Linked DNA regions of Homo sapiens: region 2 is linked to region 1. Evidence: fine-mapped expression QTL. A gene starts in region 1. The other region holds a variant in brackets. All regions are shown on one strand. Distances are from middle to middle. Region 1 holds the start of CRIP3 (cysteine rich protein 3). Region 2 overlaps LOC105375065 (a long non-coding RNA gene).

Region 1 (8,326 bases):
CTCACTACTAGGTAACCACAAAAACTAAAAATTATTATTTTTTGAGACTGAGTCTCACTCTGTTGCCCAGGCTGGAGTGCAATGGTGTGATCTCAGCTCACTGCAACTTCCGCCCAGGTTCAAGCAATTCTTGTGCCTCAGCCTCCCGAGTAGCTGGGATTACAAGCGTGCACCACCATGCCTGGCTAATTTTTGTATTTTTAGTAGAGACAGGATTTCACCATGTTGGCCAGGCTGGTCTCGAACTCCTGACCTCAAGCGATCCACCCACCTCAGCTTCCCAAAGTGCTGGGATTACAGGCGTGAACCATCGCGTCCGGCTTCATTTCTTTTTTAAATAATTTTTAGGCCAGGCACGGTGGCTCACACATGTAATCTCAGCACTTTGGGAGGCCGAGGCACATGGATCACTTGAGGTCAGGAGGAGTTCGAGACCAGCCTGGCCAACATGGTGAAACCCCGTCTCTACTAAAAATACAAAAATTAGCTGGGCGTGGTGGCGCGCACCTGTAGTCCCAGCTACTCAGGAGGCTGAGACAGGAGAATTACCTGAACCCAGGAGGCAGAGGTTGCAGTGAGTCGAGAACGCACCACTGCACTCCAGCCTGGGCAACAGAGCGAGACTCTGTCTCAAAAAAAAAAAAAAAAAAGAAAAGAAAAAAAAAAAACAAGAAATGAGAGGCAGAAACAAGACAGGAAAATTCAGTGGAAGCTAAAACTAATATTTTTCAAATTTGTTAAAGAAGAAGCCTTTCAAGAAACAGTTATAAAACTAAGCATCTTGAAATATTCCCTGAAACAAGAAACAAATAATGAGAAAGTGTAGAAAAATTACAGTGTGGAAGGCTTCTACCCTTAGAACTTAAGAATGATAAAACAAGTGTTATAAGTAAAAAGGATTGATGGAGACAATTCAGGAACAGGAATATCCAGTGGAAGTTCATAGACCCCAGTCCCTACCCCATTACCCAGATGAAGGAACTGATGTCCCAAGAGGAGACACTTAAGACAGTGCGCCTTTCACCTAGCAGAGCACAGCACTGCAGTCCATTGATGAATTTGGTGCAAGCCCTTCCTCAACGGATTTGATGTAACAAAGGAACTTACTCAAGAAAACTCGGTTTCACTTCCATCCTTCATAGAGGGATTGATTATTGTCTCCTCTGCTGGGACACTGGCACAAGTTTATCAGCTCTTCCCTCCAGCTCTTCATTGGCTACCTTTCCCCCCAGTCCCCCTGCCTTTTTTTTTTTTTTTTTTTGAGACAGTCTCACTCTGTTGCCCAGGCTGGAGTGCAGTGGCGTGATCTCAGCTCACTACAGCCTCAACTTCCCGGGCTCAGGTGATTCTCTCACCTCAGCCTCGCAGGCACATGCCACCAAGCCCAGCTGATTTTTTGTAGAGATGAGGTTCGCCATGTTGCCCAGGCTGGTCTCTAACTCCTAGGCTCAAGTGGTCCACCTGCCTCAGCTTCCCAAAGTGCTGGGACCAGGCGTAAGCCACCACTTCTGGCCGCCTTTTTTCTTTAGTTTTCTTCAGGTTCTATTGTTGTTGTTGTTGTTGTTGTTAAGACATTACGCATATACCATAAAATTCGCCTTTTTAAAGTCTACAGTTCATGCTTTTTAGTATATTTCCAAGGTTGTACAAACATTACTGCTATCTAATTCCAGAACATTTTTATCTTCCCATAGAGAAGCTTCGAACCCATTAGTGGACATTTCCAATTCCATCTCCTTGACTGGCCAACCACTAATCTACTGTCTGTCTCTGTGGATTTACCTATTCTAAATATTTCATATGAATTGATTCATATGATATGTGGCCTCTTGTGTCTTGCTTTTCTTACTTAATGTTTTTATGGTTTACCTGTGTTGTAACATGCATCAGTATTACATTCTTTTTTACAGTTGAGCAATATTCTATCATACAGATATACTACATATTGTTTATCCATTATCAGTTAATGAACTTTTGGGCTGTTTCTACCTTTTGACTATTGTAAATAGTCCTGCTATGAACATTCATGTACAAGTTTTTGTATAGACATATGTTTTCATTTCTCTTATATACCTGGGTATAAACCTGGAAGTGGAATTGCTGAGTCATATGGTAACTCTATGTTTAACTTTTTGAGGAACTGCCAGACTGTTGTCCAATGTGGCCACACCATTTTATGTTGCCACCAACAATGTATGAGGGATCCAATTTTGCCACATTCTTGCCAATATTTGTCTCTTTAATTATAACCATCCTAGTCAGTATAAAATGGTATCTCATTGTGGTCCTAATTTGCATTTCCCTAATGACTATTGATATTCAGCATCTCTTCATGTGCTTATTGGCCATTTGTGTATCTCTAGAAAAACATCTATTCAAATACTTTGCTCACTTTTAATTGGGTTGTCTTTTTGTTATTGCATTATAAGTTATTTATATAATCTGGTTACTAGATCCTTATCAGATTTGCAAATATTTCTTCCATTCTCTGGATTTAAATTTCTTGAAATATCCTTTGAAGCACTATTGAACTACTTTTTTTTTTTTCCACCAGTTGTCAAATGATCCTTTATTGAAATATTTTCCTTTGTGCTTAACTGGCTGGGCATTCCACAGAACCACTGTTGATATCATCTATGATGTCATGAGGGTGGCGGCCATCAACATTACAGCCCACAGACTGGGCAGTCCCCAGGATCTCTTTAATGGTGCCAGAGAGTCTATTGAACTACTTTTAACAAATATTTATCTGGGCATGGGGGCATATACCTGTAATCCCAGCACTTAGGGAGGCCCAGGCAGGTGGATCGCTTGAGCCCAGAAATTCGAGACCAGCCTGGGCAACATGGCAAAACCCCATCTCTACAAAAAATACAAAAATTAGCCAGGTGTGGTGGCATGTGTCTGTAGTCCCAGCTACTCCAGAGGCTAAAGTGAGAGGATCGCTTGAGCCGGGCAGGTGGAGACTGCAGTGAGCTACGATGCACCACTACATTCCAGCCTGGGCAACAGAGACCCTGCCTCAAATAAATACATTCATTAAAAACACAAATATTTAAAAATTTTAAAGCAAACCAGATTAGAAATGTGTAGTTGGTTTTCATTTTTATTTATTTATTTATTTTGAGATGGAGTCTCGCTCTTGTCCCCCAGGCTGGAGTACAGTGGTGCGATCTCGGCTCACTGCAACCTCCACACCTCCCGGTTCATGCGATTCTCCTGCCTCAGCCTCCCGAGTAGCTGAGATTACAGGCATGCGCCACCACGCCCAGCTAATTTTTGTATTTTTAGTAGAGACGCAGTTTCGCCTCGATGGCCAGGCTGGTCTTGGACTCCTGACCTCAGGCGATCCGCCCACCTTGGCCTCCCAAAGTGCTGGGATTACAGGTGTCAGCCACTGTGTCCAGCCACCCTACAGCTTTAGGAGTAAACGATTGTATACAGACCATGTTCTGAGGCTTCCAAACCGAGTCTTGAGTTCATTAAGGGATCCATCATAGTGATAGCTATAGCTGTTACAGCGTTTACATGCCAGGCGCTGTTTGGGCACTCTACATGTATTAACCTATTTAACTCTCATAACAATCCTATGAGGCAGAGACTGTTATCATACTCATTGCACAGATGAGAAAATGGAGGCAGAGAGGGAGGTTCAGTAATTTGCCTGAAGTCAAAGAGTAGGGTACCAGAGACGGGCTCCAGATTTTGTTGCTTTCAACCACTTGCTATACTGCCAAGGTGGAATTTTGCATTTCAAAGAATGCCTACTCCCTCGCTTTGGAGAGAGTAGTGTTTTAATGATGTCTGCACTGTGGACATTTTTCCTGTCCTTACCGCTCCAGAAACTAGTAGAGCTCCCTGTCCAGGTGTCTTCGTTACACATGTGCCTTCCTAGTCTGGAGTCCACGGCTTCAAGATCCTCTCTCCTCCCCGTGGGTCTGACCGAGGCTTTAATGCTCTTTGAAGTAACAGCGAAATAGCCCTTTGTCTCCCAAGTGGAGTGGTTCTAAATTTCTGATAACCAATGAGCGCCGAGGAACCGCGGATTCCGCCCAGGGAGGCTCAAAGCTGAGCCGTGGGTGGAGCCTGCGGAGGGGGCGGAACTGAGCCGCAGCGGCGTACCTACTGTGTGCCGCGTGCGCTGCCTGGAGCGGAGCTATGAGCTGGACCTGTCCGCGTTGCCAGCAACCTGTTTTCTTCGGTGAGGCCCGGGCTGCGGAGGGGGAGAAGATGGGGCGAATGGGAGCCGCTGGATTCCCTGAGGACGCGGAGGGCTAGCCACAGTGTAGTCCCAGACACCCTTTTCACCTGCAGCGGCTGGTAGTCTCCGCACCACCCGCTCCCACTCGGGTCTTCTCCCTTCCTCTGAGAGCTCTGTGGGGAGTGTGAAACCGGAGCGGGATGGAGCTGGCCTCCTGGAGACACTCATCTCCAGGAAGCAGGGCAGGCCAACCTAATTCCCTAGAGGGCCGAAGAGGGAAAGGAGGGGCCCTATGCTTGGACAGGCTCCTCGCAGCTCGGTTCCACTTTGTCCTCCACAGCTGAGAAGGTGAGCTCCCTGGGCAAGAACTGGCACCGCTTCTGCCTGAAATGTGAGCGCTGCCACAGCATCCTGTCCCCTGGCGGGCATGCAGAGGTAAGACCTGGCCAGGGAGCACTGCCCTGTTTACATCACTGCCTCCCACCCCCCAGGCACCAGCCCCCAACTTCAGCACTGGAGGCCTGCCAAAGGGAACCTCAGTAGCCAACCCCAAGGCCGCCCACCTGGTGGACCCCACACCAGCCAGGAATTTGGGAACCTGGGTCGTGACTGTGGATCCCATGGTTTTGGGGATCAGGGTGAGTGGGAAGCAGCGTCACCTTCTGAGCTGCTCTTGCTCTTCCTCCCTTGACCACAGTGGAAATGCTGGCATGCCAGCCCATCCCCCACCCCTCCCAGGCCCACCAGACTCAGCCAGTGGACAGACACACCTGGCAGCCTGTCTGGGGTGAAGGCCTGTGGGGCATGGCTCCCGCTGGCCTTGAGTAACCCACTTCCCTCTGCTTGTGCCCAGCACAATGGGAGGCCATACTGCCACAAGCCATGCTATGGGGCTCTCTTTGGACCCAGGGGTAAGTACCAGCCTTAAGGGGCCATGGGTCAGCAGAACCCTCCTTGTGGCTGGGAGCTGGGGGCTCAAGCCTGACCTCCCCTATTCTCTCTTCAGGGGTGAACATTGGTGGTGTAGGCTCCTACTTGTACAATCCCCCCACTCCCAGCCCTGGCTGCACCACTCCTCTCAGCCCCAGCAGCTTCAGCCCTCCCAGGCCAAGGACTGGCCTCCCCCAAGGCAAGAAAAGTAAGGCTGGGCTCAGCTCCTCCCAGTCCTCCTCCCGACCCTTCCCCAAGCTGGAGCGGAGGTTGGGCCAGGTGGCAGTCTCCTATCCAGCCCTCTGCTTCACATTCTCACAACTTCATTCTTGGCAAAGTCTTCTCTATCTACTCCCCGCTTTTTTTTTCTTTCTTTCTTTCTATTCCCTCATGTGAGCTGCTGAGTTAAGAGGTAAATTGTTGGGAGGCCGAGGCAGGTGGATCATGAGGTCAGGAGTTCGAGACCAGCCTGGCCAGCATGGTGAAATCCCATCTCTACTAAAAATACAAAAATTAGCCAGGTGTGGTGGCTCATGCCTGTAATCCCAGCTACTTGGGAGGCTGAGGCAGGAGAATCATTTGAACCCAGGAGGCGGAGGTTGCAGTGAGTCAAGGTCATGCCATTGCACTCCAGCCTGGGCAACAGAGCGAGACTCCATCTCAAAAAAAAAAAAAAAAAAAAAAAAAGAGGTTAATTGGGCAGATGGCATTATCCCCTCTCCTCGTGTGTTACAGGTGAGGAAAGTGAGATCCAGACAGGGCAAATGACTGTCCATCCACAAAGCTAGTCAGAGGCAAAGCTGGCCAGGAACTTAGGTCTGTCCCAGGCCAGGGCCATGGAAGGAATGATCTAAAGGAGAGGAGTCATTGGGATAAGGCCAGCCTCTCATATTCTTCAACTTTTCTCCTCTGGTCCCTGTTCTTTCCCTCCATTCCCTGAAGTAGGCAATGACACTGTGCTCCCCAACACCTGACACCCGTGCTGTGGCCAGCTCCTATATCAGCTCAAGTTTCCTGAGGATTGAGTTGCTAACAGGGTTGGGATGGTGGGTACGTGAGCCCCTGGGAGGATGAAAAGGAAGCAGGAGAAGGAAGCAGATAGTCCCTAATACACATAGGGATGGGGCAGGAGGTGGAGTCAGAGGGGGCTCAGCTCTGGGCCTGTAGAAGGCAGACTCTTGGGCGCCTGGGTGGGGCACTCTGGAATGAGCATGGCTTTTGAAAGAGGACAGCACCATATGCAGGCAGGTGCTGGTGGGCATCTCCACCTCAGACATAGCCAGGGCCTCTTCCCCTTTAAAGGCCCTCCCCATATGAAGACATTCACTGGGGAGACCTCGCTGTGCCCTGGCTGTGGGGAGCCCGTCTATTTTGGTAAGTAACAGTGGAAAACTTGGGGAGGGGGATACAGGGTGGGCAGCAAGGGGGAGGGAGGTGATCCAAGGCAGGTAGGTCTCCCTACTCTACCCCTAGAATGGAAGCATTACCACTTCTTTCCACCACCAGCTGAGAAGGTGATGTCATTAGGCAGAAATTGGCACCGACCGTGTCTGAGGTGCCAGCGTTGCCACAAGACCCTGACTGCTGGGAGTCATGCTGAGGTGAGCAGGGCAGGAATGAGTGGTTATGTTGGGAGGAGGCTGGAGATGGGAAGAGAACCAGGCTGAGACAGCTCTCTTTCTCTCTGTGTCTCAGCATGATGGAGTCCCCTACTGCCACGTCCCCTGCTACGGCTACCTGTTTGGCCCCAAAGGTGGGCAGCCCCATCCCAGACACTGGGATGGCATGTACATGCCTGAAGTATGGCATGTACATGGTCTGTGGGTATGTGTGGACAACTTCCCCTGTGGTTAAGCATACCCTGGCCCCCCCACCAAGTTCCCTCTAGGCCTGAACCCTGCACCACAGACCCAGGGCCTTTGGTGATAGGGCTCTCTCTCTCAGGTGTGAACATTGGCGATGTGGGCTGCTACATCTATGACCCAGTGAAGATAAAATTCAAATGAGACGCTCACAAAAAAGGTCACCCTAACTCAGGCCTCCCATCATGCCCCTCATGGTCCAATGGAAGCTACAAAAATCTCCAGTCCCATGGGGGTTGGGGAAGGTGGGATCTTGGGGGCCTGGGCCTAGGCTCCATGGTAGGCCAGAGAGTCTAGACTTTCTCTGCCAATTTTTTCCCTTTCCCATTTCTATCTGGTTAGGGAACAGCCCGTTTTGAAGGGTATCCTCCTCCTGGCCATCACAACCCCTTTCCCCAGCACATTCTGGAGCTTCAAGGTACTCATAAAACTTGTGTTTATTGAATTTCAGCCTCTGTGGCTTCTTCAATAAAATGTTGGCTCCCATGCCTTCAACTCTTCTTTGGGCATGAGACCAGTGGGTTGGAGGATGGGGAGTGTGGGGGTTGGGATGACATGCATTGCCCTGCAGGGTGCCTCGGAGGTAGCAGGGCCAGCCATGAGAACAAAAAGCTCTGTTCTTTTTGTCCCTTGGGCCTGGCATTGGCAGTCCTAGCACCACACAGTGGACAGCATGCCCACCAGCCCCATTGGTACCAGAAGTCTCATATGCTAGTCCTTTCTTTAGCACCATCTCTAGAAGAAGCAGAAGCACCTTATTCAGTAACTCATTTGAGCATGGCAACAGATCCTATGGTAGGGCCTCCCAAGAGGCTTCATTATCCATTTGGGAGATGAACAGACTGAGGCCCAGAGAGGGAAAGCCACATGCCCAAGGTCACACAGCAAGTTAATGGTGAAGGTTTTATCAGAGCCCAGGGCAGACTCAGTGGCTTCCTATCCAGGGCTCTTCCCACAGCTCGTCACCACTGCCCCAACCCAAGGGGCACCTTTATTTACAGAATCCTCCCCAACCGTGAGAGGGGTGCCCAGCAGCCCACTGCATTCTGGGAAGTCAACTGTTCCTAGAAGCCAAATAATCAAGGATGGATGAGCAGAGGGAGCGGGTACTGGCAGCAACTCCGGCCCTAGGCAGAGGGTTCGATACTCCCAGCCTGAGTTGCAGGGCCTGCCCTTCTGCTCTCCCAGCCCCTGCTGCAGAGCTTCTGTGGAGGGCCTGCCTCCACTCCCACTTAGTTCTGGACCTGCTTCATGGGCATCTCTTCCTCCTGAAGACTGGTTGGGGCACTAGGGAGGAAGGAGTTGTGAGCAATGGTGGGGTTTAATCCCCGAG
Region 2 (8,326 bases), 89 kb before region 1:
AGCATCTCTAGTGATAAGTAGGATCTGCTTCATATAAGATTCTTGGGGTCTTTTTTGTTTGTTTGTGTTTTTGAGACAGAGTCTCGATCTGTCACCCAGGCTGGAGTGCAGTGGTGTGATCTTGGCTCATTGCAATCTCTGCCTCCTGGGTTCAAGTGACTTTCGTGTCTCAGCCTCAGCCTCCTAAACACTTGGGATTACAGGCGCGTGTTACCCCGCCCGGCTAATTTTTTGTATTTTTAGTAGAGATGGGGTTTCACCATGTTGGCCCATCTGGTCTTGAACTCCTGGCCTTAAGTGATCCCCCCACCTAGGTATCCCAAAGTGCTGGGATTACAGGCGTGAGCCACCGTGCCTGGCCTATATACAATTCTTTTTGTCTTTTTCTTTTCTTTTTTTTTTTTTTTTTTTGAGACGGAGTTTCACTCTTGTTGCCCAGGCTGGAGTGCAATGGCATGATCTCGGCTCACTGCAACCTCTGCCTCCTGGGTTCAAGCGATTCTCCTGCCTCAGCCTCCCGGAAGTAGCTGGGATTACAGGCACCCGCCACCATGAGCAGCTAATGTTTTGTATATTTAGTAGAGACAGGGTTTCGCCATGTTGGCCAGGCTTGTCTCAAACTCCTGACCTCAGGTGATCCACATGCCTCGGTCTCCCAAAGTGCTGGGGTTACAGGCGTGAGCCACCACGCCTGGCCTATAAGATTCTTAAAGTGGGAAATTCTCATGGGCTGAGCAGCCTCCACCCCTATCTCCCAAAAAAGAAATGTCTACTGCAGTTGGCCAAATCTAGAGGGCAGGAAAAGGAAGAGGGATGGTTAGACAAGAGATCAAGGAGTGGCCCAGGGCAGTGGAAAGAGCCTTGAGGAAGCCTGGGAGGAGTTTTTGAGGAGGGAAAGGTAAGGTGCTAAGTGCTTTGGAGGGTTCTAGGGAGAGTGGAAGTATTTGGATAGAAAGTGGTGTTCTGTGACCTCACCAAGAGCAATTTTACTCAAGTGTGGAGGTAGAAGCCAATCATAGGAAATTATAGAGAAAACTAAAGTAAAAACATAGAGGAATCTCTCAAAAATATTGGGGACATTTGCCCCTATTAATCATCACGAAGACACAATCCAATGTCATCAATTCATCACTCATTCCATGACATGATTTGGCTGTGTTTCCACCTGTGTAGGGAAGGGAAGTAGAAAGTTGCCAGAATATGCCAGGTGCAGTGGTGCATGCCTATAATCTCAGCACTTTAGGAGGCTGAGGTGAGAGGACTGCTTGAGTCCAGGAGGTTGAGGCTGCAGTGAGCCATGATCAGACCACTGCACTCTGGCCTGGGCAATAGAAAGAAAGAAGAAAGGAAGAAGTGTGAGAAACGAACTCACCCATCCAAACCCAAAGAATGGACTCAGAGACCCAGAGAACAGTGAAAGTGAGACTTTTGATGACAGTCTTGCAAGATTGGGTGTCTGATAGGCAGGTACACCCAGCACAGTTTCAACAAGCAATTTATCCCCTCATGCACAGGTCCCTCTCCCAGTTCCTCATAGGCTGAGTACTATGTGGTCACAGTCTTCCCAGATGTTGCCTATTGATTGTTGGGTAGGGGCTTTAGGTGTTTTTTTGGCGGGGGGCGGGGGTTGTCTTGTGCATTTTATTGCAGCCCACAATGTGTTGCAATCCTAGTTAGCTCAAGGGCTCTTTAAGTATTTGACTTATGACCTAAGTAGCTGGACAGACTGATAAAAACAGACAAAGTAAGCTATTTTGCAGACTAGTAAATTTTTATCTTAAACTTCTTTGGTTCAGGTGAAGACAACTAAGGCAGGTGGGGAGGCTGACAAGCAGGCATTGGCTATCCAAGCAGGGGCCTAGTATATCCTGTTTCTTCTGTAGTTTGCTCACCTAAGCCAATTCAAGGCATTTTGTCTTGGAAATGGACCAGTGTATGCATTATTTCCTTCAATTCCCTCCTCTTTTTCTTTTTACTCCTATTGGTCCCATTTTCACATTTATGTTTGTGTCCTTTGGTTCTTAAATTTATTAGGTACTCCTCTAGGGACTCCTATTGAGTTAATACAAGTGCTGGGGTTAAAATAATTTGTTAGATCTCTCCAACTTCAGTGGCCACGTGGATTCTCGGGAATCTTATGGAATGCCAGGGTGAAGGGAATGGCCACTTGAACTAAAGCACAAGTTCCAGTCCAATTGGACAATAACAAGTTAGAGAGGTTTCTCTTCCCATAGTACCACCAGACATCAGCCTGGGGTATACGAAATGCTGAGTAGTTGCCTTTATTTGACTCACCAGTAATGTTTAGGATGTGGGTACAAGCTGAGAGTTTTCCCACAGGCTTACTGAACTCTGCCCCCTGCCTAGAGAGGCAAGAGGAGTGGTTCATATTCCCTTTGGAGAACAAGGGGATTGCTCTAGGGTCTGATCTCTGTAAGGCGGGAAAGAGCAATGATAGACTTTTGTAAGTCTTATTTCCCCATGCATTCGTGTCCTGGTATAGAGCCAACATGCAACACATTCCGTCGGGATTGGTATCCCATCCTAGGGAAATGGAACCACCTGTGCCTGAGGCTGCCCAGCACAGCATGCGTAACAGTTGGTCTTATTAAGAGCTAGTACTGGCCAGGTGCGGTGGTTCACGCCTGTAATCTTAGCACTTTGGGAGGCTGAGGCAGGTGGATTGCCTGATTCAGCAGTTTGAGACCAGCATGGGCAACATGGTGAAACCCCATCTCTACTAAAATACAGAAAAAAAAAAAATTAACCGGGCGTGGCATTGTGCGAGTAGCTGAGTAGTCCCAGCTACTCAGGAGGCTGAGGCAGGAGAATTGCTTGAACCCAGGAGGTGGAGGTTGCAGTGAGCTGAGATCGTGCCACTGCACTCCAGCCTGGCAACAGAGCGAGACTCCATCTCAAAAAAAAAAAAAAAAAAAGGAGCTAGTACCAAAAATTTGACCCATTCAACAGGCATTTACATCCCCATATTCAGTCTCAATTTCTAAAGTCTGCCTCAAGTCAGTTACCTTAATTATTTTTATTCTCTTAGAGTTATTGTCTGGTGGATTAAAGGAGGTAGTGGGAGGCCGGGTGTGGTGGCTTGCGCCTGTAATCGCAGCCCTTTGGAGGCCGAGGCGGGCGGATCACGAGGTCAGGAGATAAACCATCCTGGCTAACACTGTGAAACCCCGTCTCTACTAAAAATACAAAAAAAAAAATTAGCCAGCTGTGGTGGCGGGCACCTGTAGTCCCAGCTACTTGGGAGGCTGAGGCAGGAGAATGGCTTGAACCCGGGAGGCAGAGCTTGCAGTGAGCCGAGATCGCGCCACTGCACTACAGCCTGGGGGACACAGTGAGATTCCGTCTCAAAAAAAAAAAAAAAAAAGGAGGTAGCGGGACCAGGAGTTATAGTAATCCTGGGTGGGCTCGGGGTGGAGTTGGTGACTAGCCTAAGAGCAAACCGTTCCACCAGATTGCTTCCTGAGATATCTGTTCCTAATACCTACCTCCAAGGTTCCCGGTCAAGAGTAGCTGGGTTGTTTATCGTAATTAATATAGGATTGCATTCTAAATTTCTACAGTTAGGTGGCGTAGGGCCCTTAAACAAATGTATTTTATTCTATAAGGGTTTGTTTTTGGAAGAATGACTCACCCAACTTTGATATTGAGTGGTCCACCAGACCTGATTCCAGCTAGCACAGGGCTTTTCTGAGAGGGCCCAATAACAGTCTGTTTTAGGACATAGATCTTTGTCTGCTTGTGACAACTGTCTGTGGTTCCCTAAATTCCCACAAGGTAAGACTTGGCAGGTATTAAATTTTATAGTTTGGGGCAGGGTGGAGGTCTTGGTTATGTTGACTATTAGTTTGGATATTCCCTACTTTCCACCCCTAGTACTGGGCCCTATTCAATACTTAGGTCTTCTTTCACCCCTTGTATTAGGATTAATCCTAACCATATCCACCCCCAAGGACGGAGCCTGCTTATAGCTTCCTTTTAGGTTTTCCTTAGAGTTAGCTTTAAGGGTTCCTTAGGTGATCTATACACTTCCCATTCACCTTTTTCCCTTCCTTCTGGGGTTTCTTTTACCAGTCTCTTGACCCGAGTGTGAGTGTCCACCCCGTTCAGCTGTTCCTACGGCTGTCTCAGTGATCACGAGCACTTGATAGGAACCTTCCCAGCTTGGGTGGAGATTGTCTTCCTTCCAAGTCTTAATTAGCACCAAGTCGCCAGGCTGGAAGTGGTGACCTGTGAATTCAAGAGGCAGGGTTTGAGTTAGAAGTCTTTTTAACCTAAGGGATGACAGGGTGGAGGA[T/C]ATGGCCGGTATGTAATTTCTTTTTTTTTTTTTTTAAGACAGAGTCTCGCTCTGTTGCCCAGGCTGGAGTGCAGTGGAGCGATCTCGGCTCACTGCAAGCTCTGCCTCCTGGGTTCATGCCATTCTCCTGCCTCAGCCTCCCGAGTAGCTGGGCCTACAGGCACCTGCCACCATGCCTGGCTAATTTTTTTTTTTTTTTTGTATTTTTAGTAGAGATGGGGTTTCACCGTGTTAGCCAGGATGGTCTTGATCTCCTGACCTCATGATCTGCCCGCCTCAACCTCCCAAAGTGCTGGGATTACAGGCTATAATTTCTTAAAAATTGGTCTTTGGTTTCCATAGTAGGAAGGTCAGTAGTTCTGCCTAAATACAGGAATGCTTTGTAATGGCCTTAACCCAGGAGGTCTTCCTCCAGTACTCTGTTTTCTAACTACCTTTTTGTTTATTTTTTGGCAGGTTACACAACCCCCACACACTTGTTTAGCAAGGGTATAAATCCCTATACACCCATAATTTTTGAGTATTGCATCACACATGGCCTGGGGACCCCAGTGACTTCCCTTATGCAGTATGGACATTAGTTGTCTCATAAGGGGTTTGTTTATCATTTCTCTCCCATTACAGAGCACCCACCTTCCATCCTCAGTATGAGTGGCTCCTATCTTGCCCAGTTCTTCCTCCTCCTCTTTAGAAAATTGGGGTCTTAATACCACCTTAGGGATATCTGGGATTGGGCTAAACAGTCTAACTTCTTCCTCCAGGAGACTTGATTAGCAGCTTCACCGGCAAGCCTGTTCCCTACAGCTTCTATAGTGTTTCCTTTCTGATGGCCACTTACATCAACTACGGCTACCTCTGCGGGAAGCAGGAGGCTTTTTAAAACTTGTTTGACCAGTTCCCCATGTACCAGTTCGTTCCCCCCGTGCTATTTATTAGGCCGTGCTTTGTCCAGATTTTTTTCAGAAGTGTGTATTACTCCACAGGCATATTTGGAATTAGTATATAGTGCCTTCTTGGCCTTCTAGGAGCTTTAGGGCCTGGTTAAGAGCATATAATTCACAGGTTTGGGTTGACCAGTTATTGGGTAATCTACCTTTTTCACATAGGATTGTTTGTTTCCATTAATGACAGCATAGCCGTCGTGTCTTTTACCATCTATCACTCGGGATGACCCATCCACAAACAGCCTTATTCCATCATGTAGTGGAGTTTCTTTAAGGTCTGATCTAACTTTAGTTTGATATTCTATGATAGCTAAACAGTTACAGTCTGATGGCTTCTTATTATCCTCTCCTTTCCATGAAAAACTGGCTGGAGTTAGGTTAGGCACCTCCCCAAGGCCCGTTGACCCCAGAGGAACTTGGGGAGGCAAAGGCCTGACCAGCTGGCCTCCCAGGGTGCCTTTGGCCAGGCCCTGCTGGGTCTGGCTCTGGGCCAAGAGCTGCCAGCCTGTGGTGCCTTCCCTGATGGGCACACTCATTAGCAAAGGCATCCCTGGCTCTGGCCTCCCTTCCTCTTTCTTTGCTTCGAAGGCACCATCCATCTTCCTGGCAGGCCGAGAGCTGCACTGTTTTTATTTGATGCCACCCCTGCTGATGACCCAGCAACTGCAAAGGGTCTCTGGTTTGTCCCGCTCTGGGAGGGGGCTTTTTCTCCTCCTCAGCTGCAAGAATCCTCCCCTGGCCCAGCCTGGCTCTGGGAAACAGAACTTTCTTTCTTTCTTTTCTTTTTTTTTTTTTTTGAGACGGAGTCTAGCTTTGTTGCCAGGCTGGAGTGCAGTGGCGCGATCTTGACTCACTGCAACCTCCGCCTCCCGGGTTCAAGTGATTCTCCTGCCTCAGCCTCCCGAGTAGCTGGGATTACAGGCACGTGCCGCCCCATCCAGCTAATTTTTGTATTTTTAGTAAAGACGTGGTTTCACCATGTTGGCCAGGCTGGTCTCCTGACCTCAAGTGATCCGCCCACCTCGGCCTCCCAAAGTGCTGGGATTACAGGCATGAGCCACCACACCCAGCCGGAAACAGAACTTTCATACATCCCACCTCAAAGCATCTTGTCCGACTTCTCCCCAGCACGAGCTCTCTCTACTTCAGGGACTGCAAACTGGCATCCTCTCTCGCCTGTATTGGGTTTTTAAGTTTTTTGAACTGATCCCCAGCATTTAAAAATCATATTTCATGTAAAAAGTCAGAATTCTGGCCTCTGAGAAAGCAGACAATTTGGCAACACAGGGCCAGCACTGTAAGAACAGCCGAGCACTGCGGCCCCTTTAACACGGTGTGCCCTCTTCAGTTAGCCACAGTCCCCACCCAGCCCTGCAGCCCTCCTTCTCATCTTTTGCTGGCCCTGTAGTCCTTTGAGTTTACAACCCTAGTTCTGATCTTCCTTATGTAGCCTGCCAGCCCTTCTGCAGACTTACTGGCAGCTGCCCCTGGTGGACTTACAGCCTCTCAGTAAAACAACAACAAAACCTTAATGGTCATCTCATCCATTTACCCTTCCATAACCTGAATCCTCTCTACCACCTCCTGACAAACAGCCATCTGGTTTTTTTTTTTTTTTTTTAGATGGAGTCTTGTTCTGTCACCAGGCTGGAGTGGAGTGCAGTGGCGACTTCTTGGCTCACTGCAACCTCCGCCTCCCGGGTTCAAGCAATTCTCCTGCCTCAGCCTCCCAAGTAGCTGAGACTACAGGCATGTGCCACCACGCCCAGCTAATTTTTGTATTTTTAGTAAAGACGAGGTTTCACCACGTTGGCCAAGATGGTCTCAGTCTCTTGATCTCGTGATCTGCCAGCCTCGGCCTCCCAAAGTGCTGGGATTGCAGGCATGAGCCACCGTGCCTGGCCTGCCATCTGGTCTTTGTTGTAGGCAACCCATTACTCCTCAAGCAACCTGATCCTAAGCTCTCCTTCACATCCGTTTCTCACTTGCATCGCCCAGTTCCTGAGCTCTGTCCTTCCTTAGTGGCCGCACTGTAACCTTTCCCTGCACCTCCTTGCTGCTTGAGCCTCTAGAACCTTCCCCCAGCCCAGCCAACTTCTCGGCATCCTCTCACTTCTTCTTGTACTCTTTCTTCCTTTTACATTATTTTTCTCCCAAGTCTCACCTTCTGTGTCTCTCTTTGATCTCTGGCTTTTCCAGTCTTTCTCTCTCTCTCTTACTCATTTTTCTTTTTCTTTTTTTTTTTTTTTTTGAGATGGAGTCTCGCTCTGTCGCCCAAGCTGGAGTGCAGTGGCGTGATCTCAGCTCACTGCAAACTCCGCCTCCCAGGTTCATGCCGTTCTCCTGCCTCAGCTTCCCAAGTAGCTGGGACAACAGGTGCCCGCCACCGTACCTGGCTAATTTTTTTGTATTTTTAGTAGAGACGGGGTTTCACCGTGTTAGCCAGGATGGTCTCGATCTCCTGACCTCGTGATCCGCCCGTCTCGGCCTCCCAAAATGCTGGGATTACAGGCGTGAGCCACCGCGCCCAGCCCCTTACTCATTTTTCTTCTTCTGTCTCTCTCTCTGTCATCCCGTTTCCTTTCTCCCTCATACTCAGTTTCTTCCTCTTTCTCTCTCTGGGCACGAGCTGAGCCGTGCTGTACCCTGGCTCCCCACTTTCTGTCTGCAAAGATGAACAGCTCTGGCTCTCTTCTTTTTCTCTGGGCACCAGTGCACCTGCACAGTGTCTTACACTGTCTACCCTGTCTCAGCTGCTTAGTCCAATGGCTCCCACACACACAGATGCATGGCCAGCTCTCCCTTGCCTTCAGGGTCAGCAGCTTAACTTTCTCTCTCTCTCTCTCTCTCTCTGGCCCTCCATATTTGCCGTTTCCTCCCCTTTCTCTTTCTGATTTTCTTTCTTACTTGTTCTCTTTCTCTGTAGCAGGACGAGCCGCAGACAAAACTCCTCAGACACCGAGTTAAAAAGGAAGGAGTTTATTCGGCCGGGAGCATCGTCAAGACTCCTGTCTCCAGAGCCGAGCTCCCCGAGTGAGCAATTCCTGTCCCTTTTAAGGACTCACAA

The links.
Region 2: its variant is fine-mapped to the expression of CRIP3 in whole blood (TOPMed, PIP above 0.99).

Annotation. Positions count from the first base shown.
Region 1 is chr6:43,304,625-43,312,950 of GRCh38, reverse strand. CRIP3 (cysteine rich protein 3) reads left to right here and starts at 4,125. Exons shown (of 8, transcript NM_206922.3): 1 at 4,125-4,201; 2 at 4,542-4,636; 3 at 5,055-5,112; 4 at 5,208-5,339; 5 at 6,434-6,505; 6 at 6,638-6,732; 7 at 6,827-6,884; 8 at 7,076-7,479. The coding sequence starts at 4,159. The coding sequence ends at 7,137. SLC22A7 (solute carrier family 22 member 7) reads right to left here. Exons shown (of 11, transcript NM_153320.2): 11 at 7,413-8,280. The coding sequence ends at 8,226. It also overlaps the pseudogene RPL12P47. RefSeq lists an enhancer at 4,608-5,465.
Region 2 is chr6:43,393,459-43,401,784 of GRCh38, reverse strand. It overlaps LOC105375065 (a long non-coding RNA gene), which reads right to left. Exons shown (of 6, transcript XR_007059585.1): 2 at 4,059-4,248. Among named protein-coding and RNA genes, the nearest start is that of ZNF318, 28 kb to the right of the region's middle. The variant T/C (reference allele first, on the strand shown) is at 4,316.